Linked DNA regions of Homo sapiens: region 2 is linked to region 1. The links come from fine-mapping of genetic effects on gene expression. A gene starts in region 1. The other region holds a variant in brackets. All regions are shown on one strand. Distances are from middle to middle.

Evidence for each region. PIP is the estimated chance that this variant, and not a neighbour inherited with it, causes the effect. A credible set is the group of variants that fine-mapping cannot tell apart.
Region 2: its variant is the best candidate, but not a certain one, in a credible set for the expression of SCIRT in putamen (GTEx, PIP 0.56).

What each region holds. Positions count from the first base shown.
Region 1 is chr6:44,066,155-44,082,057 of GRCh38, reverse strand. SCIRT (stem cell inhibitory RNA transcript) reads left to right here and starts at 7,406. Exons shown (of 5, transcript NR_125864.1): 1 at 7,406-7,561. RefSeq lists enhancers at 6,326-6,395, 7,516-7,775, 8,796-8,895, 8,936-8,995 and silencers at 8,286-8,545, 8,636-8,715.
Region 2 is chr6:44,002,977-44,018,879 of GRCh38, reverse strand. All of the region lies in intron 1 of SCIRT (stem cell inhibitory RNA transcript), which reads left to right. It overlaps LINC03040 (long intergenic non-protein coding RNA 3040), which reads right to left. Exons shown (of 3, transcript NR_160956.1): 3 at 11,268-15,903. Among named protein-coding and RNA genes, the nearest start is that of LINC03040, 10 kb to the right of the region's middle. RefSeq lists a silencer at 8,160-8,358 and enhancers at 7,449-8,648, 13,667-14,298. The variant A/CATTA (reference allele first, on the strand shown) is at 8,848.

The DNA.
Region 1 (15,903 bases):
CCCAGGTTCTGTGACTTGAGCTGAGTTCTGCCCCCTTTCCAAGAGCCCCTGCTTATCCCCAGGCCTCCCTGTGATTGGTGCTGGGTTGGGCACAGGACCTTTTTGTCCCACATGGTCCTGCCCACAACGGTTCCCAGGTTAAGGTATGGGGAGAGCCCATGGCCAGGAGAACTGAGGCCCATGCGGGACCTACATGATGAGTCAGAGTGAGGCTGGGGGAGAGGACAGCCTTCGAGAGCCAAGGCTGTGTTGTGGGAGGGAAGTATTGCCAGCTTTTTGGGGGTTAGCCGGGAAGGCTTCCTGGAATTGGCGTTGATTCTCAACGTGGGAGCCACTAGGTTGGCCCCTAGTCCCAGCCGTCACAAGCTTGTGTGGACTAGTATGCATCTGCCTTCTGCTTACCTTGCCATGTCTAGCCCATGACCCTGGAGGGCAAGAGGGAGGGGTGTCCTGCTGCGGGGCAGAGGGATTCTGGCCTAGGTGTGTGTGGGAACTCCTGAGGCTGCAGGCTTCAGTTTTTGCCGGCTCACTGAAGCAGTCTCTGGGGAAGCCGGGGCTTCTGGGAGTGGTTCTGGTGCTGCGTGGTCTTGGCTAGTTTTCATCTCTTGGAATATTTCCTCCCCTGCAAAATGAGTGGCTGGCAAAGGTGATCATCCAAATCCCCCTGCACTGGGATTCATGGCAGGAGTCTGCGGGGGGACACCTGGACAACCCAGGATGAGACCCTGTGCCCTGGGGTGAGCTGGATGACAGGCTCAGGGAGTCATGGGGGCAGGGGGGTTCTCTCTGTGCAGCTGCCTCCTGGAGGGCCTTTTGGGGGCTAAAAGTACCACCCTGCAAGCTTCCCTCCCTGGCTTCTGCCCCCCTCCCCTGCCCCATTTTGTCCCCTTTGTTACATTCCACAGTGGAAAGCGATCCCTCTCTCAAGGCCTGAGGATTACAGTCAGGAGAAAAGCCTGGGTCGCCCTGGGAACACTCACGTAGCCTTTTCCCACCGGTGCCCTCCTCCTCCTGACAAAGGCTGGGGTAGGGGGATGATCCTGATGCACCCCAGCCTGAGGGAGCAGTAGGGTCTCTGGGGTTGGGGGGCTGGTCAGCCTTTCCCTCCCTCCCTGGGGTTCAGCAACCCCAGGGAGGGAGTGAACTGTGTTGAGAAGCCCCCAGTGGGCCCTCTCAGGATGCAATTGGGGCCTAGGTCCTGGGTTTCCATGTGCCTGGGCTCCCCCTGCCCCCTCACTTCTGCCCTGAACCCTCCCGCAGGCTGCAGTGCCACTCCCCATCCCTACTAAGCTGGGGATTTCCGCAGGCTGAGCCAACCGCCTGACCCTAATTATGGCGCCTTCATCCTGTTGAGGTTAAGCTCCCTATGACTTTCTCTCCCCCCACCCCAGAGGCCAGGCTGGGGGTCAGAGACTCAAGAGTCTCAAGCCTACTGTGCCCCCTCTGGAAAGGGTTGATGGGCCTGTGTCCCCTTGGGTGGTTGGGAGGCAGCTTCTTGTGGGTCTGGGTAGACAAGCTAAGATAGTTTCTCTGGGCCGGGTGCGGTGGCTCACGCCTGTAATCCCAGCACTTTGGAAGGCTGAGGCAGGCGGATCATGAGGTCAAGAGATTGAGACCATCCTGGCTAACACGGTGAGACCCCGCCTCTACTAAAAAAAAACAAAAAAAATTAGCCACGTGTGGTGGCAGGCACCTGTAGTCTCAGCTACTCAGGAGGCTGAGGGAGGAGAATGGCGTGAACCCGGGAGGCGGAGCTTGCAGTGAGCTGAGATTGCGCTACTGCACTCCAGCCTGGGCAACAGAGCGAGACTCCGTCTCAAAAAAAAAAAAAAGTTTATCTGGAGAGCCCTTAGGACAGAGGGGAGCCCTGGGGAGCTGACCTCTAGAGGGCTGGGAAGTCTGAAGATGGGGAACTCCTAGAGGACCCATTCTCAACCCTGGCTGCCTATAGAATCACCTAGAAATATTTTCTTAAAATTACCTTTGTCTTAGCCAACCCCTACCAATTTTGATTTCCTTAGTCAGGGCTGGGCAAACATGGGTATTTGAAAAATCCTCCCAGTGATTCCCATGTACAGCCAATCTGAGAATCCTGCTCTGTCCTCCGCCCCATGATGCCATCGAGGAGGCTGAGGCTCAGTGAGCAGAGGCCCTTGATGGAGGCCACCCCACTAGTTGGGGCAAGGTCGGGTCAGAATCTGAGGCTTCTAACCCCATGGCAGGCTCCTTCCTATAGGCCTCTTCTGTCCCCCAGGGGCTGGTCTGGTGTCCCACTGAGTGTCACCTGTATTCATTTCACCATTTGGGCACTGAGGAGCTGTGTGACCCTTGGCAAGTTGCTTAACCTTGGTTTCTTCTTTGTGATAATGGGCTCCAGTGATAAGAATTGGACAAAATGATGCCTGCAAAGTGTTCAGTGGCACTTGAGGGAAGAGTAGCCACTGTCCTGCTTTTTGCCTGGGGCAGGCCTGGTGCTGCAGGATCTGGGCAGAGGCCTCCTTGATCGTCCCCACCCATCAGGCAAGTGAAGCCCTTAGAGGTGGAACTTCGGAGGGTGGAGTCCCCGGGGAGTGGCCACCCCTGAGGCTCCCCAGGGCCCTGACAGGGAGTTGGGAGGTGTAGGGAAAGTGTGAAGAATGGCTTCCTTGCACACTCGACTTCATGCACTTCCAGGTGGCGGTGACAATGGTCAGGATTCTGCAGTTATATGAATGGCCACCAGGAGTCACCCTCAGCTCATGCTTGAAGTGAAGGCAGCACAGAAAAAGGGAAAGGAGCTGTAAGGGAGAAAAGGAGGAGGACACCCCACCACAGAGTGGATGAGCCTGGAGGGGACCCAAGGCTGCCAGAGTGGCTGCTTCATTTCTGCAGGAAGGTGCAGGACAGAACTCAGACTGGTGGGCACCGTGCCAGCAGGCAGAGGAGGGAGCAAAGGCTCATTTGTCTGCCTTCGGAATTCTCCTTCCCATGCTGATGTCAAATCACAATTCAACAGATTCTTCATGGGGCACCTGCTGCACACAGAGGGACAGGAATCTTACTGAACACCTAGTATATGCCAGAGCCTACACACACAGTGGGCTACTCAACATTCACAACAACTCTGTACAGTAAGTACAAATATTGGTCCCAAGATACAGATTGGGAAACTGAGGCTTATACCAGTTATGTGTTGTGCCCAAGGTCACCAAGCTGGATGAGGACTGACGCCTGTCTGGAGCCTAAATTCTTTCTCCTACACCAGATTGACTTCCAGAGAGTTCTAGGATACAAAGCTGGCAACAGACTTTCTGCCACGTAGAGGGATATGGCAGGTGACAACCCTGTCTGGCTCTGCTAATCAGGATCCAGTAAGAAGCTCAAGACAGGTGGCCACTCTGCTGGTAGGCAGAGGAGGGAGCTGTGCTCCCTGGGGTGGGTAGAAGTAAGGTTTGTGTGGGTGCTGGGTGTTGGACACGGGCAGGCTGCAGACATAGCAGCAATGAGGGGAGACTCTCTCAACCTGCCCATGTCCTCCTCTGAGCAATCTCCCCGCCCCAGAATTATTTCAGTTTCCTCATCTGTCAGTTCTAGGGGTGGACTTCATTCATTCAATACTGTGTCCCTGACCTCTGCTCCCTGCCAGGCTCTGAACTAGTCATGTGTCAGGCTGGATACTTAGATGGACAAGACAAGCCATCCCCTGCCCACAGCTGCCCCACCTGAAGTCTAGGCCAGTGACCTCCGAAGTTTTTTTGATCATGTGCCCTTAGCAATAAAAAAGATTGTTGAGTACGCACCCGTCAGATGAGTATGTTTTTATATAGTTTACCTTGTAAAACACACTCACACTAAATGAAAAAAGGATTCGATGAAAAATAAATAGGCATTCTAAAACTTTCTTCCAGTACCCCTGAACCACGCACACATATGGCACTTGGAACCCAACTGCTCCAGGAGCTGGGAGGGTAGGGTCAGTCCAGCCATACTCAGGACGGATGTGTGGTCAGTGTTCCAGAACATCCTTGCCCACCCCTTTATGCCCTAGCAAAGGAAGGGAGAAACTTCAGATACAGCAGGTGGGAGTGTGGGCAGATGGGAAGCGTAAGCAGGTTTATGTCTGAGGAGGCAGACAAGAGGCAGGTTTTTATTTTAGACTGTGATGTTGAAAATTTTGTGATCACTTTTTACACTGTCCCAGGACATACAGAACCAAGACATAGTGTCCCAAGTAGTATCTAATTTCATATACTTTAGGTAGTTCTATTCCATTTCCAAAGGTTTAGAATACCGCCCCACCTCAACCCCCAGGAAACTGGGGAGCACTCCCTCCACTACACACACTTGGGACACGAAGGACAGACCCTGGTTGGGGAGGCACTTAGGTGTCCCTTCCTTAGGGGCTTTATCTCTCACTTCCCCTCCTGGGTTGGAGGCTCCTGTGACCCCCTCGCCTGGGCAGGTCCCCATGCAGGGTAGAGCACTTGGAGGCCTCTGTAAACATGGGTTACAGGAGAGAGGGGGCAAGAGGCCACAGCTGGGGTACATAAGGAAACCCCTCTGTGGGCCCCCTTACTCAGAGAAGTCTCAGGAGAAACCCTTTCCCCCACCCCCAGTCCTGGCACCAAGCTGGAGAAAGACAAAATGGCTTGTGAAGGCATCTGTCTGCCCTCCAGGGTGGCTGCCAGGGGGGCAGCCATGATGGCTGGCCTGGTGTGGGTGCCTTTGTGTGCCATGACTGGGTGTCTGTTTCTGCAGTCACTAGGCGCTTGTTCTGTGGGGTGAGGGGTGTGGGGGTGGGGGCACGGCCTATGGCAGGGCACGTACGTGAGGCTGGGCACGAAAAGCCTCACCCACCTCCTGCCAGGTACAACCAGCTGCTGGGGCCAACTGCCGACCGCCTCCTCCCTTCCCTGGGCACGGCCAGGCCGGGGGGCAAATGACTTGGCAGGCACCTCCCCTCAGTTGGACCCACTAGGGCAGGGCCGGCTCACCTGGGGCACAGGCAGGGCTCCTGGCTGGGTGGGTGTTCTGCCAATCCCTTCCCCAACTCCTAAAGTGGGAGGGTGGTGGTGAGGCCAGGGAAGGGGCGCAGGTCAGAGATATGCCCCCTCTCCTCTCCCAGACTGTGCATGGGTAAAGCAGGGCAGAGAGGGGCTGGTGGAGGGGCGGGAAGTTTCTCTGTTTAGGGCCAGGAAATGATTTCCATGCAAATGAGATGCAAACTCCTTAATGAGTTTGCAATTAGGAGACCAAGGCTGCCAGGCCGGGCAGCGCCTGCAGGTTTTATGAATGGGCCAGCGTAGGCGGGGGGGAGGGGGCGCGCCGGCCCGCCCCCACATTTCCCTGCCGCGGCGCCCGCGACATGCCGCGCCGCACGTTGCTGCCTCCAGGCCCCGCCGCGACCTGGCCCACCGCCAGCGGGTCAGCTGCTCCGGACGGCGCGGGAGGCTGCCGGCCAGAGTCCCCGCCACGCCGCCGGCCGGCGACGCAAAGGAGCCGACGACACTCCCCCTGGGGCCCGGCAGGGGCTCTGTCCTCGGGCCCCCTTTTTTCCCGGTTATTGGAATGATTTCCCGAAGCAGGAAGGCCAGAAGTTAGCCTTCAGGCCCCGTTGTATTTAAAATGGGCTGCCCTGGGACTTCACTGACCAAAGGAGGGGGCTGGGCCCCTAACTTGGGTGACAGCAATGACCTTGGGAGGGATGGAATTATACGTGACAGGAGAGGGACCAGTTCCCATCCCAGAGCTCCTTGCACCTCTCCAATTCCCTCATGCCAGTCCACACCTCCCTAACCTCAAAAGGCCTGTTCCCACCACCCCAGGGCACCTGCTTTTTCTGCAGAGCCACCCTAGTCCACTTTGGGTCTTGCTCTGACCTGGGGCCCAGGAGAGGGTCTCCTAAGTGGGTGGGTACACACAGGTTTGCTGTGGTCCAGAAGGAGGCTGACCAGAGTTTGAGAGTTTGAGCCCAGTTAGGTCACAGCCCCCTACCTCCTCCCCTCCCCTCTCCTCCCCCTGTCCCCGCCCTGCCCCATTGCTTTCAGAGTAAATTAACTAATTACCTCCAATTAAAGCACCTGGCTCTCTGTATCCTCCTAGGCCTTCAATCACTGCTTCTGGGAGTCCTCTTCATCCAGGCAGGGTCTGGAAGGGGGCCTGACCAGTAAGTTGGAAGTCAGTGAATCAATGAAGTGGGGCGGGGAAGACAGGATGGAGGAAGCCCACAGTGCCATTTACTGCTTGGGAGTGGTCCAGGCAGCCAGGACCTCTGACTTGGCCAGCTTGCAGACTGAGGTTGGGTCTGGGGACTTGGGCCCTAGGGGGGCCTGTGAAGGCTGGGAGCAGGAGCTGCCTTTGGAGGTTAAGTCCCTGGTGAAGGGCCTGTGCAGATGTGTGCAGATGTCAAGGCCCTGAGGGTGACCCTAGAAGCCCCTCAGCAGGAGAAGCAACTTGAGGGTCAGGTCCTAGAAGCTAGCAGTTCTTGGCACCTGCTGCCTCCCTCACCCAGCAGGCAGGGAGAGACTCCAAATGCCTGTAGGCCCAACCAGTCCCTCCTGTCTTTAACCCCAGCTGGCTCCTCCTGCTGCTCAGGAAGTGAAAACCCCTCCATTCTTTTCTCCGGGCCCCCTTGGTGGCCCCCAGGCACAGGCCCAACACTAGCTCTGCCCAGCACTGTCCTGGCCCACCCCACGTGTAGGACGTGATGGGGAGGATACCTGGTGGCAGGAGGCAGACTGATGGATTGTTGACCTGGGTCTCACCTCTGGACGAGCTGGCCATTCCTGGGGACTGGGCAGGGTCACGCCAGGCTGTGACTCAGGCCCCTGCCCCACCATGCCAGGGACCTGGGCTTGGGCCATCCTCTGTGTATGTGGGGTGGGGTGGAGCAGAGGTTTGTCAATTGGAGGCTTCTCTTTGGGGACACCTCTCACAGCCCCAGGGAGCCAGACTATGACTAGAAGGATCAGGGTTTCCATGGCTGCTCCTCCCCACCCACCACCCCAATAGAGGCTGACAGGAAGGACTCCCAAGCAGGGCACAGCAGCCATATGAGTTAGTGGGTGTATGAGCCATCCAGGACAGGGGTAGGGCTCAGCACACAGGAAGGGCCACTCCTGGGGTGTCCTGAGCCCCTATCTGCCAGCTCGGCTTGTCTCCCTAGGCCCATGGAAAGCTGGCTCAAAACTCCCCACCTCCAGGAAGGCGTCACCATGCCTCGCTTGTTTGTGGCCAGCCCAGCGCTGCTCTCAGCTCCCACTTTTCACTTGTTTCTCTGCCTCTTGTCCCCTTTCCCAGATCCACCAAGCGTCTATGGGCAGACTGTTTTTTCCTGCACTTCCTAGTGGCCAGCAGAGGGCGCCGCCAAAAGACTGAGGCCACCACGGAGGGAACAGGAGAATCGGCTTTTTGGGGTCTAGCCACTGTGCAGAGCCCAGGCGCGTGGGTCGGTGTCGGGTGTGTGTGTACGTCTGTGTGTGTAATGAAACTGGACGCCTTCCTTCCCGGCGATCTTGACTTAACCTGTCAGCAGAGGGCTTGAGGTTAGACCACAGGTTGAACCTAGGTGGCTGCTGGAGAGGTAAGCCCAGGTGGCTCTTGGCAGGAAGAGGAGGATGAGTGAGTTGCTCCCTTCTAGCAACCCAAATGGGAAGGGACAACGGAGGTTGCCAGCTTTCCTCCCTGACCCTGGAAGAAGGGTTGGGAGGGGTTGCACAGAATAGCTGGTGTCCCACCCTGTGGGAGGAACTGCTATGGACATCTGGGCCACATCTGGTTTCCTGGCAAGGCAGGGAGCTGGTCTGTTTGGAATTCTTGGTCCACCGCTTGGTGGTCCCTCACCATTACATTCTAGGAGGACCCTTTACAAACAGGTGTATAGGGCGCAGCCCTGTAATGCGAGTGAGTCCACAGCAACCTAGTCGTGGTCACACTCCTTTGGAAGTGGCCCTAGGGGCCTGGGCAGCAGCCTGCTCCTCTGCGCCACTCGACCTTTCTGTGGCCATGTTGGAGTCTGCATGCTGAGATGCTGCCCTTTCCCCTTGGAAATGCTGGGAAATGTGCTCTGGTGTCCATCCTGGCCATGCCTCTTCCTCCAGGTGGGGTAAGAGATGAAAAGAGGAGTTAGTCTGCAGTACCTCTTAGGGACCCCACCCCATGAAAGGCGGAGTGGGGAAGTGCTTGCTGTTGGGTCACCTCCACGAAAGCTTGGGAATGCGGTTGGGACGGGTAGCGGGAGGAGGGGTCAGCAGGAGTGGTTCTTTCTTGGGTCTGGATTCTGGGTTTTGGGGACGAGACAACACGGAGGAAACCCCTCTTGGTCGGCTTGGTTCCAGGAGGCTCAGGCCGGGAGATGGCCGTAATGGCCTCGCAGAAAGAAGCGGGAGCGGGGGAGGGGGAAGGCTGAGCATCGAGCCCACCCGGACTCTCCCTCTGTCCTCCCCGCTGCGGGGGCCCACCCCTTCGCCCCCACCCCTCTATCTCCAGGGCCGCCGCGGCCCCTCCCCGAGACCTGGGCGCCGCCTCCCCCTCCCCTCCTCCTCCCCCTCCCACCCAGCGCTGCAGCTGCTGCCGACGGACCATTCTGCACGTAGCGAATGGAGGAGACGCACAAGGGAGGCCTCAAGTGCGCGCGCGCGGGAGCCGGAGCGGCGCGGGCGGGGGAGCGGCTGCGGGCGCGCGTGCGCGTGCGGCGCCGGCTTTGATCGCGCGCGCCGAGCTCCGGAGCGCGCTGCTCTTCTGAGCGCCGGGGTTGGGGATGCTGGGCGGTGAGCCTCCGTACCCTCTCCACTCCGCGCACGCTCTGTTACCCCTCCAGCAAACCCCGCCTCCAGCCAGGACCCTTTTCAGTTGCCACCCCAATAGTACTGTCCTCTGCGCGTAGTAGGGTCTTCTGTTACGGTGTGCCGGGTGACGGATTGTACAGTCAGCCAGGTCCTGGGCTAGGGTTTCACAGAGTTCAGAACATGCCCGTGTTCATGACCATATAGTTTCACTTTTGCCCCAGGATCTCTCAGCCTGGAGGCCCTCACCCGCCTGCCTCTGCTGCACCTCAAACCTAGGCAAGCCCCATAAAGCCCCTTATAAGGGCTTGGGAAGAAAAAACAAAGGAGTGCTTTGACTTTTATTTCCTCTGGGATGGGGAACTCCCAAGGGAGTTCATTTCCCTTTCACCCCCTCCTATGTTACCTGCACAGCTCCTACTCCCTGGGGTGTCCAGGACTCTGCTGGGCCCTGCCCACACCACTGACAAAGGTGTGGTATGGTAAGCACAGAGTCTGCGTCCTGGGACAACCCAGGGAGTACAGGGAGGCTGTGTCAGGCTATGGCAGGCAGGGCCTTCATCTTGGAGGTGTCTCCTGACTTCCAGGGGCACTCTCTTCACTTCCTGAATCCCTGATCAGGAAGGGGATTGGCAAGTGGCTGGCCTGCCACCTGGGCCACTGGCAAGTGGGTGGCCGGGGGGGGGGGGCTGTCTTCCTTCCCTGGATGGGCTACGTTGGCACCTCATTCCACCTTCCTCACTGTGCATCCTGGCTCTCCTGGCTAGGTGGGCATTGGGCAAGACAGGTGACAGGGCCTTGCAAAGGGATGTCTGAATAGGGTCGGTGGTGTTTTGAACCTCCCTGTGGGAGTGAACTGAAGGGGACTGGTCTGTGGAATGTGCAGGTGGAGGTAGCTGAGAGCTCTTTGTCACGTACTAACTTAAACTGGCCCCAGTTGTTTGACCCCTCTGAGCCTCAGTTTTCTGTGTAATGGGAGTACAGCATTCACCCAGCGGGGCTGTTGAGGATTAAAATATAATCTGCCTATAACATGCCTCATATGTTGGAGGCATGTATGAGGTAAACCTTTTTTTATTATTGTGTTTGAACTGGCTGAAAGTCTGGGGACATTTCCCTCAGCTTTGTTTCCATGGATAGAGTGAATTCAAATCCCGGAGCTGGCAGCTCCTTGGAATTTGAAGGTGGGCTTTGAGAAAACTGTAAAGAGGCCAGTAACATGTCATGTTTATGTCACCATCCAAGAATGAACCATTTCATACTAGTTTTCCAGACATTAATATCTGAAACCTTAAAAAGAGATATTTTGGATAGGAATCACTAGTGGATATTACACGCTTTCCGGGCTTTTAATCAGAGGTTACAGAACATGTGAGTCTTCATGACTCAGGGTTGTGGTTACAAGGGTCCATCAGTATCCTGGTTGTAATACAGTGAAAATCCAAGGCCTTTTTTGGCCCCACACCAACGGCTCATTCCATGAAGGCTACATTTTCGTAGTTCTTGTGTCTACTTTTATAGTACTTTATCACTTCATCAACTCTCTCCGTATAAACTATCACTTCTGTTACCATCACTTTGCCTGCCTCCAGGGCAGACCACCAAACCCACCCTATTCTCAACTTGTTTCTGTTTGGCTGTGGGCTGAGATGTCCGAAAATCACATCTGTTGGAAGATGTGAAAAACAACGAGATCTTTTGAACTTGACAAATTATATTAAAGTTCATCTGGAGAAATAAACATGCAAAAAGAGCTTGGAAAATCCTGAAAAAGAAGTATTATAAGGGACGACTAGTGCTACTAAAATGTTGTAGAAAGCTCCAATAATAAAATAGTTGGGTACTGGCACAAGAACAGACAGGCAGATCAAAGGAGCAGAGTAGAGGCCAGACACACACCCGTGAACAAATGGAAATTAAATATATGATAAAATGACATTTTAGATCAGAGGAGAAAAGATGAATTATTCAATCAAATTGGACAACTGGTTAGCTGTTAAGGGGGAAAAAAAAGAAATCCAGCTCCCCACTTCATCTCTTATTCTGAAATAAATCCCGATGGAGTGAAGATTTAAATGTAAAAAGGAAACCATAAAATTACTAGAAGAAAACATCTGAAAGTCTAAAAGTGTATGTTCTTGGATTGGGGAAAGTTTGACACAAAACCTAGGAGTCACAAAGGGAAAGAATTTTTTAAAATTGGCTGTATTAAAATATGACGTAGGGTGTTGTGTTACATGCCTGTAGTCCCAGCTCCTTGGGAGGCTGAGGTGGGAGGATAACTTGAGCCCAGGAATTTGAGGCCAGCCTGGGCACCACAGTGAGACTCCATCTCTGAAAAAAAAATGTGTTTTTAATGTAATATCCTGAATTCTAAAGACAACCGTCTGGAAAAAATATTTTTAACATAGATGACCGATGAGTTTTTACAAGTCAATAAGGAAAATAAAAACGAATAGAAAAATGGGCAAAGCACATAAACCGGTAAGGGGATACTAATGGTTAACAAGCAGGTGAAAATGCTCACCCTCAGTCAAAATAGAAGAAATCAAAATGAAGACATGAGAAGATTCTCTTTTCGCCAATTTGATTGACAACAACTAAAATGGGCAACCCCTCACTGTGTGGACACAGACATCCTCAGAGCTGGGGGGGAGGACAGTTGCACCTGTGAAGGGGATTGGCAGTATACATGAGAAGAATTAATTCACAAACCATGGACTCGAGGGTTCCATATCTAGGAATTTATCAGATGCACTGTTATAAATGTCACAAGTGTTCAAAGTATACATACAAGTGTGTTCATTGCAGTTTTGCTTCCAAACCTGAAAAACTGGAAGCAACATTAAGTCCATTAATAGGGCACGGATTGGATATGTTATGATGCCTCCAAACACCAATAGTATGCAGTGGTTGAAAAGAGTGAGGTTGAGGTTGTGTGTTGATATTCACTAAGTAGAAAAGCAAGTGGCAAGACATTCCTTGGGTGGTGCTACTCCATGAAGGGTGTGCCCTCTGCCAGCATGGGCATGGAGCCTATTAGAAATCCAGAATCTTCAGCCAGTTGCAGTGGCTCATGCCTGTAATCCCAGCACTTTGGGAGGCCAAGGCAGAAGGATTGCTTGAGCCCAGGAGTTCAAGACCAGCCTGGGCAGCATGGCAAAACCTCTCTACAAAAAATTAGCCTGTAGTCCCAGCTACTAGGGATGCTGAGGCAGGAGGATCGCTTGAGCCTGAGAGGTGGAGGTTTCAGGGAGCCAAGATGGTGCCACTGCACTCCAGCCCAGGTGACAGAGAGAGACCCTGTCTGAAAAAACAAACAAAAAAGAAACCTGGAATCTTGGGCCACCGTAGAACTACGGGATCAGAAACACTAGGGCTGGAGCCCAGCAGTCTGTGGTTTTAACATGTTCTCTGTATGATTCTGATGCATACTCGTGTTTGAGAAGTACTGATGAGGAGTATGTCACTATATGTGTAAAAAATGGATAAAAACCAGTTAGCCCTTCTGCCTCTAAAATTTCAGAGTCACCAGAAAGGGCTTTCCATGACCAGAGTGAGAAGGGATGGAAAAGTCCACTTTTCACTTTATGTGTTTCTGAACTGTTCAGACTTTTTGCCACGAGAATATATTACTTTGGTTTTTTTAAAAAGTAGTTAACTCTGGAGACTGAGGCAGGAGAATCGCTTGAACCTGGGTAGCGGAGGTTGCAGTAAGCCGGGATCAAGCCACTGTGCTCCAGCCCGGGTGACAGAGCGAGACTCCGTCTCAAAAAAAAAAAAAAAAAAGTAGTTAATAAATAAAAAAAGCTACCCAAATGGAGAAAGAAAATGTGGTACATACATACAATGGAATATTATTAAGCCTTAAAAAGGAAGAAAATTGTGACACATGCTGTAACAGGGATGAACTTTAAGGACATTGTGCTAAGTGAAATCAGCAAATCACAAAAGGACAAATATTGTATAATTCCACTTTAATGAGGTAACTAAGGTAGTTAGATTCATAGAGACAGAAAGTAGAATGGTGGTTGCCAGGGGCTGGAGAGATGGGGAGTTAGTGTTCAATGAGCAGAGTTTCTGTTTTGTAAAATGAAAAGAATTCTGGAGATGGATGGTGTTGATGGTTGCACAACAATGTGAACATATGTAATGTGAACGTATGTAATGTGAATGTATTTAATGCCACTGAAATGTACACTTAAATGTGGTTAAAATGGTAAATGTTCTGCGTATTTTATCACAAATTTTTTAAAGTTTAAAAAGCTACCTTTAGGTGTGTAAAGCAGGGTTAGTGATTGCCTCTGGCAGGTTCTGTGAGAGCCTCCATCTAGGTTACAGAGTATGTATTTGAGGGTTGGGCTTCTTGAGAACTCTCTCCTGCCGAGCCCAGTTGGAGCAAGTCTTGGCTTCCAGTAAGAGTGAGGCCGCGTGTTTGCCCACACAGTGGGAAGCCAACCTAAGAACTTGCTGCCTTGAGGGATGGGATAGGCTGACAATAGGGACAGATAGGAGAGTGGTTTGGTGACTTGCTGGAAGACAGAGGCATGCTAGGTTACTGGGGAAGCTGGATCCTTGCCCCTTCCCTGCTGCCTCTGCTGAGACCCTTCCCTGGCCTGGGGAGGGGCTTGCTCTCCTAGAGGGTCAAAGCTCTGCAGGAAGTGTGGTGAGCCAGTGGCCCTGGGGAGATGGCTCCTATGGGGACAGGAGGGAGAGAGGGCAGGATGAGTAGAGATTGTGGGGCAGGGCATGGGTTTCTTGGGAACAAGACTGTGCTCAGACATCTGGCTGGAGCAAAGACTGTACTTGAAAAAGGGATCAGGCCAGGGTGGGGTGAGGGGGAGGGGGCACTGGATGTGGGAGAACCTGCCCAAGCTGGGCCTAGCTCAGCCAACTGACTGTGACCCAGAAGCGGGGGACAGCAGGTGGGCTTCCACCTGTCCTTCTGCCAGCTGGGGGAGCGGGCTCCTGCACCAGGCCCTGGGGACTTCTCCAGGTGGCCCATTCTGGCCTGGATGCACAGCTGCCCATGCCACCCTAGACCCTCCCTCCCCAGGCACCGAAAGTCTGGGTTCCAGGAACTAACTAGGGAGACCTGTGGTCAAGGAAGGGTCCAGAGGTGAGGAGGCCCTGCAGCTAAACTGGCTAGGCTGATGGGGACACAGAACCCCACCCCAGGACCAGCACAGGTCAGTACATAGCAAGCCCTCATTCAATCCTACCCAGCAAACCCCTTTCAGGAAGCTGGGGACCAGTCCCTGAGCTCAGGGAGCTCACAGTCTGGCCGAGAGAGGAGCTACCCTGACTCAGGCAGAGTGGGTATTGACCACAAGCCTGGCTGCATCACCTCCAAGACATGATCTGTCCTGACTCTGTGACAGCCTCAGACTTCAGTCTGCCCATCTGTGTAATGGGGTTGATATCTTAGGGTGCCCTCAGCCATGGCAATGCCCAATTGTCAGTGTTAGGTGGGAGGCACCGACTCTGATCCTGCCAGCCTGGAGATGGGGTTGCCAACGGAAAAAGGAGAGCACAGAAGTCCAGCCCCAATCTCCACATGGCTCTGTGTTTTATTTCCCTGAAAAAGGCACAGGAGGTCAAGAGGAGGCAGGGAGGAGTAGGGGATAGAGGGCTGGGAAAGCCCAGCTCCTCGTATTGAAAGGTGACTAGGGAGTGGGGAGGGATTCCCAGGCCTGTCCAGCTGTTTCCTGCTTCCTTCACTACCAAATGTATACACTGTAAGGTCGGGCTGCCCCCTCACAGGGACCCACTGGGGTAGGAGGCCTCTCCCTCTGCTAATCCAGGTGGCTACAGCATAGGATAAGGGAAAGCTAATGGTGTTGGGACCCACTTCCTGTGCTGATTTGGACTCATGGAAGCAGGAACCTGCCAAGCTTGGCTTCCTCAGGCCACTGGTATAGCTGCCCAGGCTTGTCTGCCCACTCCCCATGCTCAAATGGTCCTGAAGAGCCCCTAGCTGAGGGCAGTGGGCATGAGATCATGCTACAAAATGCCTGTGCTCTCAGCTATACACCCCCCACCAGGTCCAGGCAGGCCCTGCCCACACATCCTGTGGGTCTCGCCTGCCCAGCTACCCATGGTGATTTAACGTGAGAGACTGGGGCTAGACTGTGGGAGAGACCACCCAGAGGGGTGAGTGGGTGAACTGGGAACAGGCTGCTCACTGAGGAAGCCCCTGCCAGTAAGCATGATTGTCCTTCCTCAGGAGGGTGGCCTGGTGGGAAGTAGATGCCCCACCCCACCCAGTCTGAAAACCCCCAGATGATGTTGGGGATGGTGGATGAGTTGCCTGTTTTAGATGCTAAAGGAGATCTAGTTCTGACCTAGTTTGATGGGATTGACACAGTGCCTGTCTTCATGGAATTCAGTCTGAGGGAGACACAGCCCTGTCCACAGGGAACCCCAGTCCGAGGAGAGACGCAGTCCCATCCTCAGGGAGCCCCAGTCTGAGGGAGACACAGCCCTGTACTCAGGGAGCCCCAGTCTGAGGCGGGAGACAGCCCTGACTCAGGGAGCCCCAGTCTGAGGGGAGACACAATCCGGTCCTCAGGGTGCCCCAGTCTGAGGGAAGACGCAGCTCTGACTCAGGGAGCCCCAGTCTGAGGGGGGAGACAGCCCTGACTCAGGGAGCCCCAGTCTGAGGGGGGAGACAGCCCTGACTCAGGGAGCCCCAGTCTGAGGGGAGACACAGTCCCATCCTCAGGGTGCCCCAGTCTGAGGAAGACACAGCCCCATCCTCAGGGAGCCCCAGTCTGAGGGAGACACAGCCCTGTACTCAGGGATCCCCAGTCTGAGGGGGGAGACAGCCCTGACTCAGGGACCCCCAGTCTGAGGGGAGACACAGCCGTGACTCAGGGACCCCCAGTCTGAGGGGAGATGCAGCTCTGACTCAGGGAGCCCCAGTCTGAGGGGAGACACAGCCGTGACTCAGGGACCCCCAGTCTGAGGCGGGAAACAGCCCTGACTCAGGGAGCCCCAGTCTGAGGGGAGACACAATCCAGTCCTCAGGGTGCCCCAGTCTGAGGGGAGACGCAGCTCTGACTCAGGGACCCCCAGTCTGAGGGAGACGCAGCCCTGACTCAAGGAGCCCCAGTCTGAGGGGAGACACAGCCCCGTCCTC
Region 2 (15,903 bases), 63 kb after region 1:
TGTTGGAATTATCAGATGCAGATTTTATAATTAAAAAAACAGCAATGCTTATTATGTTCAAAGAGATAAAAATACATGATGGAAATAGACATGGTTTGAGAATTTTGGCAGGGAATTGAAACTTTGTTAAAAAAATTAAAATTCTAGAACTGAAAATTATAATACCCAAGACTAAGGATTCAATGGATAGGTTTAAAAGTATATGAAACATAGCTGAAGAAAGAATTACTGAATTAGAAGCTAGATTAGAAAAAATATCCAGGCCAGACATAGTAGCTCACGCCTGTAATCCCATCACTTTGGGAGGCCGAGGTGGGTGGATCACTTGAGGTCAGGAGTTTGAGACCAGCCTGGCCAACATGGTGAAACCCTGTCTCTGCTAAAAATACAAAAATTAGCTGGGTGTGGTGGTGCATTCCTGTGGTTCCAACGACTTGGGAGGCTGAGGCAGGAGAATCGCTTGAACCCAGGAGGCAGAGGTTGCAGTGAGTCGAGATCATGTCACTGCACTCCAGCCTGGGTGACAGAGTGAGACTCCATCTCAAAAAAAGAGAAAAAAAATATCCAGAATGAAACATGGAAAGGTGAAAGAATGAAAAATATAGAAGAGAGTCTAAAAGACATAAAGAAAGCAGTTAGAATGTGAAAGAGAATAGGGCAAAAACAATATATGAAGGGATAATGGCCGAGACCTTTCCAAAACTGATGAAAGATATCAATCCATATACTCAGTTAAGCCCAAATAACCTAAAGCAAGAGAAATAAAAAGGAACCGGCACCTAAGCCTATCAGAGTAAAACTAAAGAGTATACCTTTACTATCAGAGTAAAACTAAAACCTGATCATCAAAGATAAGATCTTTATTTTTTAAAATTTTTATTTATTTATTTATTTTGAGACAGTCTCTGTCACCCAGGATGGAGTGCAGTGACATGATCTTGGCTCACTGCAACCTCCGCCTCCTGGGTTCAAGCGATTTTCCTGCTTCAGGCTCCCAAGTAGCTGAGACTACAGGCATGCGCCACCATGCCCAGCTAATTTTTGTATTTTTAGTAGAGACGGGGTTTCACCATGTTGGCCAGGATGGTCTCGATCTCTTGACCTCGTGATCTGCCCACCTCCCGGGTTCAAGCAATTCTCCTGCCTCAGCCTCCTAATTAGCTGGGATTACAGGCATGCACCACCATGCTCAGCTGATTTTTGTATTTTTAGTAGAGATGGGATTTCATCATGTTGGCCAGGCTGGTCTCAAACTCCTGACCTCAAGTGATCTACCCGCCTCAGCCTTCCAAAGTGCTGGGATTACAGGCCTGAGCCACAGCGCCCAGCTAAGGAGATCTTTAAAATAGTTAGATGAATAAACAGATTACCTTCAAAGGGGCAACAATTAGTCATGCAGCTAATTTCTTAATGGAAACAATGGAAGCCAGAATATGATGGAATTCTTTAGAGCCCCATATGAAATGGAAAAGAACAAAGTGTTTTTCTCAACATGGAACACTTCTGGCATATATGTGGCGATTTCTCCCTACCAACAATCAGCTCTCTAGTGGGCACCAATTGAGTGTCAATACTGACACTAACTTAATTCAATACTGACACTAACTGGAGTTAATGTAGATCACATAGGTCTAAGGACAGTCCCACAAGACTGCCTCCCATTTCAGATGACAATTACAAGTGCCAGGTTGCAAGGTATGCTTCTGACTAGCAGGCTATAAATTGGGGGTTTCCCCTCTCCTCAGGTTCAATTAAATTTCTTGAGAGGCTCACAGAACTCAGGGTAACACTTTACTTACTATTGCCAATTTATCACAAAGAATTATTTTGAAAGATACAGATGAACAGCCAGATGGGAGAGCTACGCAAAGCGAGGTATGAGGGAAGGGGTGTAGACTTCCATGTCCTCTCCAGGCACACCACCTTCTAGGAACCACCATGTGTTCAGCAATCTGGAGGCTCTCTGAATCCAGTCCCTTTGGGTTTTTATGATTGATCACGACATTGGCCTTTGGTGATCAACTCAACCTTCAGCCTTTCTCTCCTCTCCAGAAGTTGGGGCGGGGGTCTGAAAATTACAAGACTAATCACATGGTTGGTTCCCCCGGCAACCAGCCCCATCCTGAGGCTATCCAGAAGCCCCCAGTCACCAGATATCTCATTAGCTACAAAAGATACTTATCACTTAAGAAATTCCAAAGGTTTTAGGAGCTGTGTGCCAGGAAACTGGGATGAAGACCAAATATAGTCATGTGTCTGAGAAATGCATCATTAGGCAATTTCATCATTGTGTGAACATCATAGAGTGTACTTACACAAATATAGATGATATTGCCTACTATTCTGGGCTATGTGGTTCTAGGCTACAAACCTTTGTATCACGTTACTGTGCTGAATATTATAGGCAATCGTAACACAATGGTAAGTATTTGCATATCTTAACATGGAAAAGGTACAGTAAAAATGCAACATAAAAGATAAAAAATGGTGCACTTGCAGGGGGCACTTACCATGAATGGAGCTTAAAGGACTGAAAGTTGCTCTGGGTGAGTCAGCGGGTGAATGGTGAGTAGGTGTGAAGGCCTAGGACATTGCTGTATACTACTGTAGACTTTATAAACACTGTATACTTTGGCTACACTAAAATTATTTTTAAAATTTTCTTTCCTCTGTAATAAATCAACCTTAGTTTACAGTAACTTTTTAACTTTATAGGCTACTTAATTTAAAAAGTTTTTGATTCTTTTGTATTAACATTTAGCTTAAAACAAAAACACATTTATAGCTGTGCAAAAATACCTTCTTTTAAAATACTTTCATTCTGTAACTTTTTTTCTGTCAAAATTGTTTTTAACCTTTACAAGTTTTTTGTTAAAAATGAAGACACAAGCACACATATTAGCTTAGGCCTACACAGGGTCAAGATCATTAATATCACTGTCTTCCACCTCCACACTTTGTCCCACTGGAAGTTCTTCAGGGCTGATAACACATGGAGCTGTCCTCTCTTCTGATGACAATGCCTTCTTCTAGAATACCTCTGAAGGACTTGCCTGAGGTTGTTTTACAGTTAACTTTTTTTTTTAGTAAGTAGGAAGATTATACTCTAATGATTAAAAGTATAGTACAGTAAATACAGAAATCAGTATCACAGTCATTTATGAACATTATCAAATATGTACTGTACATAATTTTAAGTGCGATACTTGTATGTGACTGGCAGCACAGGAGGTTTGTTTAAACCAGCATCACTACAAAGACATAACTAACATGCTGCACTAAGACGTATGATGGCTGCAATGTCAGTAGGCACTATGTCGTATGATGGCTGCGATGTCAGTAGGCAATGGGAACTTTCAGCTCCATTATAATTTGATGAGACTGCTGTTAAGTATGTTGTATGTTATTGACCATATGTTGTTTTGTGGTGCATGACTATATACATTTCTTATCATAAATAAAAATGTTACAAGGGCTAAAATAAAATGGGCAGCCTATAATTTAATGCCCAGAAAAAAGTATTCAAGAAGGAAGGTGAAAGAAATATATTTTTAGAAAAATAAAACTGACAATTAATTACCAGCAGATTTGCATTAATAGGACATTTTATTGGCAGAATAAAATAATTCTAAATGGAAGAATAGAGATACAAGAAAGAATAAAGAGCAATGAAAATGGTATACATGTGGATAAATAGCAAATATATGCTACATATAAATAATAATAATAATGGTGTTTGGGAAGAGTTAAGGTTTTTAAGGTTCTTGCATTTATTTTGGGGAGAGTAAAAGAATCTATTAACATTAGGATTTGTTAAAAAGGCATGCTGTAATCTCTGGGTGGCTACTAAAAAATTATAAAAAAGTGAATAACTTCCACATTTTAAAAGGGGGATAATTAAATAAAATAATTCCAACAGAAGGCAAAGAAAGGAGAGAAAAAGGAGCATAGGTAAGTAGCACACATAGCACTTAGTATTGGTTTAAGTCCAAATAAACAGTAATTCCATCGTATATAAAATGACTATTTTTTCCCATTAAAAGGCAAGGATTTTCAGACTTATTTTGGATAAGAACCCAAATCTGGCACAGTGGCTCATGCCTATAATCTCAGCACTTTGGGAGGCCAAGGTGAGAGGATCACTTGAGCCCAGGAGCTACAGACCAGCCTGGGCAACATAGAGAAAACCCATCTCTACAAAAAATACAAAAATTATCTGGGCGTGGTGATGCATGCCTGTTGTGAGCAGTGAGCATGTAGAGAGGTGTGATCATGCCATTGCACTTCAGCCTGGGCAACAGAGTAAGACCCTGTCTCATAAAAAGAAAAAAGAATCCAAATCCAGCTACACCCTGTACATAGATGTACCTGAAATATAGAGATAAAGTAAAAGTCAAAGATAAAACATGTAACACTAACAAAAACAAAAAGCTAGTGCAGCTATGTTAAAATCAGACTAAACAGATTTTAAAGCAAAGAGCATTGCTAGATATACAGACATTTCACAATGATATAATGTTCAATTTTCCATGAAGATGTAATAATTCTACATTTGTATGCACCTGATAACTTGGCCTCAAAATACAGCTGGCCCTCTATATCTGTGGGTTTCATATCTGTAGATTCAACCAACTGGAAATCAAAAATATTTGAGGAAAAAACAACAAAAAATAATGCAAAATAAGAATAATACAAATAAAAACAGTACAGCATAATAACTATTGATATGGCATTTACATTGTATTAGATATTATAAGTAATCTAGAGATGATTTAAAGTGTATAGGAGGATGTGCATAGGTTATATGCAAATACTACATTATTATATATAAGGAACTTTAGCATTCCAAGATTTTGGTATCCGCAGGGGTCCTGGAACCAACCCCAATACTCAATTTGACACGCAAAGTCCTCTGTGATCTAGCCTCAGGTCACCTTCCTTTCATCCTCCATCTTCCACTGCTCTCCTTTCCAAAGCCTGTGCTCATTCCTCAGCCACCTTCACTCCTAGGCTCTAGTCCTTTCCCCACTATTGACCATTTTGTCTGTTGTGCCCTCTCCCACTTTCGAGAGTGACAGGTCCACAAGTCATCCTTCAAAGCTTAGCCCAAATGACACCTCTACAAAGTCTTCCCAATGACTCACGTTAGTCTTCATCTCTCCCATCATGCCCCAAACTTGGTGACTGCTAGTGGATTTTGAGGCTAGATACCATTGAAATCACCAAGAAACAGAACTCTTGGATCCTCATTATTAGAATACCTATGAGACAAATTTGCTGCTTAGTCTTGGGCCAGTACCTTATCCTCCCTGGCTCTTAGTTTCTACAACTGTACAAGAAGTACTTTGGACTAGAAGTGGTGTTTCTCCAAGGAGAATAGGGGTGCAATGCTTCACTATGCAAACTGCCTTGTCCATTGTGGGATCTAGCATGCCCGGCCTGGGGCACCCAATGCCAGAACATCTCTAATCACTATTACAATGAAAAAGACTCCAAAACATTTTCAAACACTCTAGAGACCATCTCCACTAGACTGGGTGATTCCTTAGGATCTTCCAGGTGAGATACTCTTGGAATCCTCTGGTTGGCGTGTAGGGACCACTGGTGGCCCAGAAACATGCAGAGGGCTGGACAGCGGGCCAATGGTGGGGAATAAGCTGGAACCAAGCTGGAGATGATGCCCAGGCCATATCCTGGCTCCTGAGGGCAGAACTAGTGTTCAGATTCCCAGCCTTCAAAGGGGCATGAACTCTCAAATGGCTCAGGCCTTCTTTTTTTTGAGATGGAGTCTCGCTGTGTCGCCCAGGCTGGAGTACAGTGGCGTGATCTCGGCTCACTGCAACCTCCACCTCCTGGGTTCAAGCAATTCTCCCGCCTCAGCCACCCGAGTAGCTGGGACTACAGGCGCCACCAATACACCTGGCTAATTTTTGTATTTTTTTGGTAGAGACGGGGTTTCGCCATGTTGGCCAGGCTGGTCTTGAACTCCTGACCTCAGGTGATCCACCCGCCTTGGCCTCCAAAATGCTGGGATTACAGGAGTGAGCCACCGCTCCCAGCCCTTTAGGCCTTCTCGTCTGGGGAGCTCCAGTCTGTCCTGAAGAACAGAATGCAGCGAGTAGGTGATGCCCCTGGGGAGGAATGGCTCACTCGTAGCAGGACTCTACAGGTGGGGCTGGCTGGGGCTAAGAGGGGGTCATGGGCTATTAGTGGAGCTGGAATAGCAAGCAAGAAGAGTCAGTTGTCCTATGCAGGCAATCATAGGAAGTTGGGTGGGGTGGGTAGGGGGACAGTTGTGACTTGGGCAGATGGAGAGGGCTCAAGACTGACCACTAGGCATGCCAGCAGTGGTTATGGACAGCAGAACGGTTGTGTTGCCCTCCTGCAGGGGAGAATGCAAACACACCTGGTTGTCCAGACTGGGTGGTGGAGAAGTAAGGGCAGAGAAAGTTCTCGTGTAAATGAGCATGATGAAGGGCAGCAAAGAGTGATGAGGCAACTGCAGAGCCGCCTCTCCTCAGAGGTGGTTTGTGGTGGGGCTCTGGGGGAAACCAGAGTGTTGCCCAATGTTAAGAGCTCAGAGTGAGTTTTCAGGAAGTTCTGGGAATCGTTGCAGTTGTTGATTCACTGAGTCATCCATTCAACAAGGATCTCCAGGGTTGGAATGAGAACACCCCAATCTTGTACATGTTCTGGGACCATAACTCATCTGGTGTGAGGTATCAGAGATTTGGTGACTGGGAAAAGAGGAACTTGGAAGGGGAAGAATTTGTCAGTGTTTATCCAACTGGGCCCAGTGGGGAGGCAGCTCTGAATCGAGAGAACTGGCCTCAAGCAGATGATGGGGGTCGTGACAAAGAAAGAGGGAGGAGGAAGGCTAGAAAGGATTATTTCAGGTACTGTCCCACCTGATCTAATGCCTGCAACCACCCAGTGAGCCCAAGGCTATGATTTCCCCTATTTTTCAGATTAACAAACAGAGGCCCAGTTCTTGAGTTCAGAAGGGCACTTCTTCAGGCTCACCGAGCTTGAATAGCCCTGAGAATCTCCAAACTGCCTTTGCCTCGATGTCTGCAATCTGTGGGTCTCAGATGGTGACTGCCAAAGTGGAAGGCAGTTTCTGTGTCTACTGTGGATCTTTCTGACAGCAACACCTGTCCCCACAGTAGCACCACCAGTTTTCCAGAAGTCTGGTTATATGGCTGGTGTCCCAGAATCTGCTCACCCATGGACAAACACATAAAACTGAATTTTTAAACTTTCCACACCAGAGACCAAGTCTTGGTGACTACACAATGTCAGCTAATGTGTTTTGAGTGTGTGCTATGTGCTTGGCACTGCTTTTAGCAGTTCAGATATATGAACTCATTCATTCCTCACACCAACCTGGGAGGGACATGCCTCTGTTATCCTCATTTTACAGGTGGAGAAACAGAAGCCTGGAGATGCTGAGTAACTTGCCCATAGTCTCACAGCTGACAAGTGGCCAAGAAGGATTCAAACACATGTGTGCTGGCTCCAGTGGCTCCAGAAGTCTGGTGAGGGGCTACCTGAAGCACATTGCCCCCTAGAGTTAAGGACAGCTGGATCTGGGCTCCGGAAGCCTGCAGTTCATTTCTGGCTGCACAACCAATTAGCTGTGTGACCTGAAGCGCATCTCTCACTCCCTCTCTGAATCCCCATTTTCTCCCTGGTTGAATGAAAGGATTCAACTGGATGGTCCCTAGCTTGGTTGGTTGCAGCTCTGACATTTCAAGAGGCTTCATCAGGCTAAAATAAGCACAAGAGCCACGCTGCGGTTGGGAAAGGGCAGCCTGGGACGTGCGTGCGTGGAAGCTGGGAGGCTCTCCATGGTGAGGAGGTGTAGAGGGCTAATTGCTAGTGCATGAGCTCAGCTGGAGGCCACTTTCTCCACTCTGTGCCCACAGCTGGCTGTGAGTCACTGACAGGTCACCAGCCACAGTGGGGCTGCTGGAGACAGGGCAGACCCTGAACATGGAGAGAAGACAAGTCTGACCCGGTGCTGGCCTTAGGGGGCCCAGGGGACTTGCATGCTCTTCCTAGTCCCTGCCTAGTGCTACTGCACCCTACTAGGAAGGCACCCCATCTCCATCTCCCTGAGCACAGCACCCCTTTTCATGGCAGCTCTGCCAGCCCTGGCACTCTGCCACTCAGCTCACATACACTGAGTAGCCATGCTGTGCCAGCACTGAGAGACCGAGGCAGGTAAGAGATGATCCCTGCTCTTAGGAAGCTTGCAGGCAAGGGGTCAGGGCCTGGCCATGTGTCTCAGTCTTCTGAACCTGCCAGTGGGGGCTTGGAACTAGGGCACCTGCACATGTCCCAGAGCTGGGGCTGTTGAAGCACCTACCCCTGCCCTCTGCAGGATGGCCAGGTGCCAACCCCACTCCTAACCCTGAGGAGGAGGCTGCCAGACAGGCCACGACCTCAGGACAGACGTGTGCCAAAGGGTCACCCCTGGGAAAGTGGCCCAAAGGGGGTTCTAGAAAGTTACCTCCTTGAGAAAGCTGAGAAGGTATGGGGAGCGGAGTCAGGGCTGAGCTTCTCTCAAGACGCTTCTCCTTGCACTGCTATGAATGTCTTCCAGCATGACCTGTCTGGGGTTGCTAGAGAGATTCAAAGTGTGTTTTCTGCCTCTGTGCGTGTGCTGCGTGCATCTCTCACTGGGCTCTTTGAGGACAGGGCCCATGGCTCGTTGCCTACCTGGGGTCTGGCATAGCGCCAGTCTCACAGACTCACTTCTGAGACAAACGTCAGAGGTCTCCAGTCTTCTGTCCAGCATGTGAAATTCTCTGTAGTATTCAGTGGTAGTTTCATTCATTCATT[A/CATTA]ATTCACTCACCATTCATTGGTTCCTTCATTGAAGCAACAGCACCTCTGTGAAGCGCTACTTTTGCTTCTGCTTAAACTCATTCCTGAGAAGCTCGTAGTCCTTTGGGATCATCCAATCGACATTGTGACCATCTGACTTTTAAGATTTCCTACTGTCGGTGATTTAAAAACTGACTCCCTGAGTTCACCTTCTGCTGGCATTTCTTCTGCTCCTGGAGAACCAGTTTAACCCTTCTTTGCATGGCAGCCTTCAGAGCATTCAAGGCATGCTCAACTCTCTTTCTTCCTTTCTTCCCCCCTTCCCTTTCCCTTCCCCTCCCCTCCGCCCTCCCTCCCTTCCTACCTCCCCACTTTCCTCCCTCCTTCCCTTCTCCCTTCCTCCCTCCCTTTCTCCCTCCCTCCTTCCCTCCTTCCCTCCTCCCTCCTTCCTACCTCCCTTCCTCCCTCTTCCCTTCCTCCCTTCCTCCCTTCCTTCCTTCCTTTTTCTTCCTTCCCTCTTTCCTTCTTCTTTCCATGTATAGACAGTTATTGAGCTTCCAGTATGGGACAGGCACCAGGAAAACAATGGTAAAAAGCATATACAGCCCTTGACCTCATGCTACTTACAGCCTAGTTAGGGAGGCACCACAGATCAACCAAATGGGTACCTGCAAAGCTGCCTCTATTAAGTGCAACCCCAAGACCAGGGCGAGGCATCAGGTAGAGCATGTAAAAGTGGGATAGCATCCACAGAAAGGGCTTTCTTTCTTGGGGTGAAACACCCCTGTGGCGCTTCCTTAGATGATGGGGTTTCTGGACTCCTCCCCACCCTGTCACTCTTTTTGTCACTGTCCCCTTGAGGAGGTCCCCAGGTCTGGACCCACTGCTCCAGGAGGGCCTGGCCAGCTTGGTGCCCAGGGAGCAGCCCCTCTCTGGTTGGACTCAGCCCTCCCATTAGTGCAGCCCAAGTCTGCACGCTCATTGCTCCCTGAGGGGCAAGGCTCCTCCCAGTAATGTTCACACAAATTGTTCTTACGTGTGGCCTCCCCCAGACTGTGTTTGAGCTGTTGAGTGTCTCACCTTGAGTTCGAGTCCTCGCGCTGGTCCTGTGAATGCTCATCTCTCTGGTATGGCCTATTCCCTCCACCCATCAGGGTCTGTCCGAGTCTGGATTCTGCTGCTGGCTGTGAAGCTCAGGGATGCATTCCCTGTTAATGTGACCAGGAGGGAGTCTGCTTATCCTAGATTAGGTACCTACAAGCAGGTTCTCAGGGAATATGAGGAGTTGGGGCACTTACAGGCCCGAGCTATGGAATGGCATCTGCCCTGGGGCTCCAGAAAGAGGTGCACAGGGCCTGAGGCTTGAGCTAAGCAAGGTGCTGCTGTTCTGTGATCTCTGCCCCGGCTCCCGTGCCCCTTCCCAGCCCATTATCAATACAGATGGGGGAGTGGGGCCAGATGCATGTGTATTTGTGTGTCTGTGTGGTGTGCACACACCTGTGTGTACATGTGGGTACAATGCGTGAGCCTGTAGGAATTGCCTGATAGGCCTCGCTGTTGGCTGGCATCCACCTTTTGCCATTGGTAACCCTGTCACTTGGAGGTAGCCAGGTCATCAGAGCTCTGGCTAGGGCTCCACTCACCTGCCCTGCCTAACAGCCACACCAAGTGGCTCATCCGCCCTGCCTGCAGGGTCCTACTCACCACCCCAGCCTCCTCAGGAACCTGGCCAGGACCCCCTCCTCAGTCCTTTACTTCTGCCCACCAGTCTCACTGCTGCTGGTGCCACACCCCCTCTCCCAGCCCCCAGCCCACTCCTTGCCTCAGCCCCCACAGGAAGCCTTTTAAAGAGACACCTGGCCCTGCTACTTCTCTGTTTATAACCCTTTCGTAGCATGGTCTCCCATGAAGGAAGTCCAGACCTACCCTGCCCCTCTTGCCCAGCCCCAGCCAACCCCCCAGCCTTAGCTTGCCCCACTCCCGCTCCAGGCTGGGCCATCCTGCACGACTCTCACTTCCCTGCTGTAACTGCAGGGAGCCGTGTGCTCCAGGCTCCAGGCCTTTGTGCAGGCTGCTCCTTCTGCCTAAAATTCGGGCCCCGCCAACTCACTTCAATTGTCACCCCCTCCTCATCCTTTCGGGCTCAGTTTAGACATGGGCTTCTCCAGGAAGCCCTCCCTGACCGTTCTCCTCGCTGTCACAGACTGTAGGCTCTAGGAGGGCAGGGTCCGTATGGGATTTATTACAGTGTTTTCAGAGGTGAATACTCAATAAATCTTATTAAATGCGTGAAATAATCTCTATGGATTTCTCATTTGATATCTGTAAAATGAAAACAATGCTATGTGACACACAGGGTTCTGAAGAGGGCGGTGGGAAATGATGTCTATGAATTTTCCATCATGGTGCTAGACATATAATAGGTGCTCCAGAAACATAGTTCTAATTTCCCTGCTCTTTAATGTTTATGGGTAAACACATGTTTTCCATTTAAAAAACTGAAATTTTGGAGTCCTTTTGACCCCAAAGCACGACTAGCTTCTTGCTGTCCAGGTTTCCACTCAAATGTCACCACCTCACCAAGATATTTTTGGACCACCCCATATAAAACAGCGCCCCCACCCCACCCCATCGCTCTCCACTCTAATACTTGCCACACCATGACCTGAGCTTTATGATTTTTTCACTTGTTGATCATCTGTCTTTCTCTGCCTAGAATGTGAGCACCATGAAGGCAGAGAACTTGGCTGATTTTTTCATTGCTGTAGCCTCAGTGCCCAGAGCCGTGCCTGGCAACATAGCGGCTGTCTAGGGGTTTCCAGGGCCAAGGCTGTGAAGTCTCTAGGCACTCTCTGGGGACAAATGCCAGAAAGAGAGAGAGACAGAGAGACAGAGAGAGAGAGAGAGAGAGAGAGAGAGAGAGTGTGTGTGTGTCTTTGTTTGAGATGGAAGGGCAGAAGTCGGTGAGATACCTCTTCCCTTCCCTCATTGTACATCTCAGGGAGGTGGGGACTCGGGGAAAACTCTCACAGCAGCTCCCTGGCCATGTTTCCTGAGGGAAATCAGGAGCAATGGCCTCTCCAGGGCCATGCAGATGCAGGTTGCTTGGGGTGCAGGGGAGGGGGCAGCACCTCCTTCGTGGTGACCCTGGGCATTTGGAACTGAACACGAGCCTTTCTAAGCACCCCTGACTCACAGCATCAAGGAGAGGCTGGGGCATATCTGTGGTTTCTCCCTTGAAGGGATCTGCTCTGCTGCCCCAAGCTGGGAGCCCAGGCCTAGGCCTGCCTCTTATTGGTGACTTTTTTCTTCCCTGGGCTGTACTTGCTCCTCTCTTCACTCTTGCCTTCCTGTCATCAGTGTCTGATGGGCCCTGTCCTACCTGCGTTCCCTGTTGGTATCAAATTCTCACACTTGTGGATGGAGTGGTGCAGCTCCCTGAGTCTCCCCTACCTATGCTGCCCGCCTTGGGCTTCCTGGGGTCAGCCCCCAGCCCTCAGCCACTGCAGGGCCCTGCTGGCCCTCCCACCCTACCACTCTGACCCTCCTCCGAGGCATGTGAGAGGGATTCCAGAGAAGAACTCCCAGAGCCTGCCACCCAACCTGCTGCCCCTCCCCACTGATGAAGGACACTCTGTCTCCACTTGGCCCCCGCCACCCCTCTAAGGGGGCTCAGCATCAGATAAGCCTATCTGACCTCTGGCTTGGATGGGTGGGGAGGGCAGAGAGCAGTGAGGGTTTGCCCAGGCAGTGACTTTGGACCCAAGTGTGGAAAGGAACTCCTGCTGGCTCAAGCCCCAGCCCCAGGCCCAGGGGTCTGAAATCACAGCCTCCTCCTTAGAGCTGTCGGCACCCCTGGTTCTAGAGCTCCCGGTCCTGTCAGGGTCCCAGAATGTTTGAGCAGGAAAGGATTTCAGAGTTCATACGTTTGTGAAGTGGACTCTGCAGTGCCCAGGAGCTGATCTGTGCGCACACGTATGTGTGCATTCGTGTGTCATGGACTAACCGCTGGGGCATGAAGCCCACCCCTATTTTGACCAAAGAACCCCCGACCTTTTTCCTATGTTACCACAGAGAACAGAGATGCCACATGATTTACAATTTAAACAAGAGGATTCACTGTTTGAAAAAAAGGTTTGAAAATCAGGAAAGCTAAACAAAAGTCATTTTACATATGGAGAAACTGAGACCCATATGTGTAAATGGCTTCCCAAGGTCACAGTGGTGTCAGTGGCAGAGCTGGTACTGTACCAGGCTGCCTGGATCATAGACTGATGTTTTTGCCAAGACCAGCCGAAATGTTCCTCTCAGGAGGTGGCAGGTGGGGGTGGAGTGCCAGGAAGGCACTGTCCAAAGAAGTGGGTTAAGGTCACAGCCTCCCGGCTCCCAAGGACCCCCTGAGAACAGTTGCTTTGGAAAGGTCACTCAGATGTGAACCAGAGGCTTGAGGTTTTGGAGTGGAAAGGGGCAGGGTAAGGAAGAATAGAGTAGGGGGAGGGCGGGGGACAGGGATTCATCCTCCAGGTTCCTCACACCCCCACTGGGAGCAGCGCCCCCCCCCCAAGCACCTGATTTCAAAGTCTCCCCTCCACTGAAGGGAGGGGCAGAGGGAGCTCATGACTGGCATGGAGGGGGCTGGGTGGCCCTGAGGTAATGACTGCTGGGGTGGGGAGGCTCTGAAGCAGGAACCTGAACTTTCTGTCTCAGAGTCTGCCCTGGCAGTCAGTGGCAGAAATGGCACAGTAGGGGGCTCTGTGGCACTCACTGTGTCTCCCCCAGTGCCCAGCTGGGGACTCAGGAAATGCTATTGAATAAATGGATTGTGTCCTCCCTCCCCCAGCACCCCCACAATCACCAGCCTCCTCCCTCTCCCTCCCCCTGTCCTTTAGAGTCTACAAGGACTGAGTTATTCTTAGTAAGTTTCATTCATCAAAGCGTGACAAATGGTGTCCTGGGAGGAATGCCTGGGCGCCATGGGGAGCCAGAGGGTGGGGTGGGGTGCAAATGTCCCATTTGAGGGGAGAGGCCATTGCCTTCAGGGAGCTCCAGATGGAGGGGGAGACAGCCCTGTCCTCATGGGAATCTGTCTGATGCAGAAGACACAAAGAACCTAGTCCCAGGGGAGACACAGTCCCTGTCCTTTGGGGGAGGCCCCAGTCTGAAGGGGGGAGACAGCCCTGCCCTCAGGGAGCTCCAGTCTGAGGGGAGATGCAGCCTCATCCTCAGGCAGCCCCAGTCTGAGGGGGACACAGCCCCATCTTCAGGGAGCTCCAGTCTGAGGGAGAAGCAGCCCTTTCTTCAGGGAGCCCCAGTCTGAGGGAGACACAGCCCCGTCCTCAGGGAGCCGCAGTCTGAGGGGAGACACAACGCTGTCCTGAGGGAGCCCCACTTTGAGGGAGACACGGCCCCATCTTCAGGGATTCCCAGTCTGAGGCAGACACAGCCCCGTCCTCAGGGAGCCCCAGTCTGAGGGGAGACACAGCCCTGACTCAGGGAGCCCCAGGCTGAGGGGAGACACAGCCCTGTCCTCAGGGAGCCCCAGTCGGAGGGGAGAAACAGCCCCATCCTCAGGGAGCCCCAGTCGGAGGGGAGAAACAGCCCCATCCTCAGGGAACCGTCAGTCTGAATCGGAGACACAGCCTTGCCCTCAGAGCGCTCCCTGTGATAGGAGATAATCCTCCCATATTCCCCCCTTCTCCAGCCCTTAGTGAAATCCCAGCCTGAAGGGAGAGATCCAATTTCCTGTTCTCAAGCAACCTCTAGTCTCATGGCAGAAAAATAGCTACCATCCCTGATGGAGAAGATAGGGTGCCACCCAAGTCACGGACTGAAACTCAAGATGACAAAAGGGAGTGCTGGAGGGGTATCCGGGAGCATGTGCAGCCACCACGGCCACTGCAAGTGGGGAGCCTGACGATGACAGAGAAGAGGGGGCTCCCAGAGACACTTGACTGGGCACCCTTACCAAGAAACATGCAGACCACAAAGGGGCAGCAATCATGGGGACTAAGATCCTGACGCTGAGGAAAAGGATGTAGGCACGGGCCCAGCGGGCCGGTCTAAATCAGAGGTCCACCTTCACTGGGAGGGCAGTCGGAGAACCCACATTGTCTGCAGACTCTCACATTCAACCTAAAACCCATGTACTCATTGCAAGCCAAACAAAACCTCACTGAAGGTAAAACGTGGCCCAAGGCCATGAGTTTGCAACACCCTGGACCTCAGGAAAGAATTGCTGATAGAGGAGAGCTCTGAGCCTGGTTTTGGGGGAAGGAGCTGATGGCCAAGCTACCCCTTTAATTCTGGCCTTCGGGCCTGGCTTCTATCTTCAGGGCCTCTCTCACCCTACCTGACATGGGAGGCCAGAGCCACCTCACTCCTCACCAGCTCCCCTATGGCGGCCACAGCTGGCCAGCAGGCGGGGCCTCCGTGTCTGTGGCGGGGATGTCACCTTTCTTCGCAGGAAGGTAATTTCCCCGCCAGGGGAGGGAGTCCGTCGTGCTGCTCATAAAGCCACTGTTAAACGAGCGGGTCTGGGAGTTCTGGCTGGGCGGACTTCCCTTCCCTTCTCCGTGCCTCAAGTGCCAAACGGGGGTACTGCTGCCCTGCGTGCCTTTGCCACTCCTCCCACTGAAGGCTAACTTTCCAATAGACCTCACTGTTTCTGTCAACGAAATAGGTCCCTGGCCCCTCCCCACTCTCCCAGTCTCTTCCAGCAGAGACCTTCCAGGACTGTAGGTTTAGGGGAGTGGAAGGGCCGGCTTCGGTCTCCCCAAGTTCTGCCCCCAGTGAGGCCTCATAGCTCTCCTGGGACTGAGGGGCAGTCCCAGAGGGCGGCAGGAGTTGGCAGCCAGTGGTCCTGGGGACCGCGAGGTGGGTGGGTGGAGGGTGGCGAAGGGAGGGTTCCGGGACCGGGGAGCGGCGTCTTAATTACGGCGCGTTGGCCCAGCGCCGCGGAGCGCCGCGGATGACAGCGGCGGTGGGTAATTAGAGCGCATTAGCCGTGCCCCTGCAATCCTGTAATTTCTTCTCGCGCTCGGGGTGTGTTGTAGGAGGCGAAGCGATGCCGGCTTGGC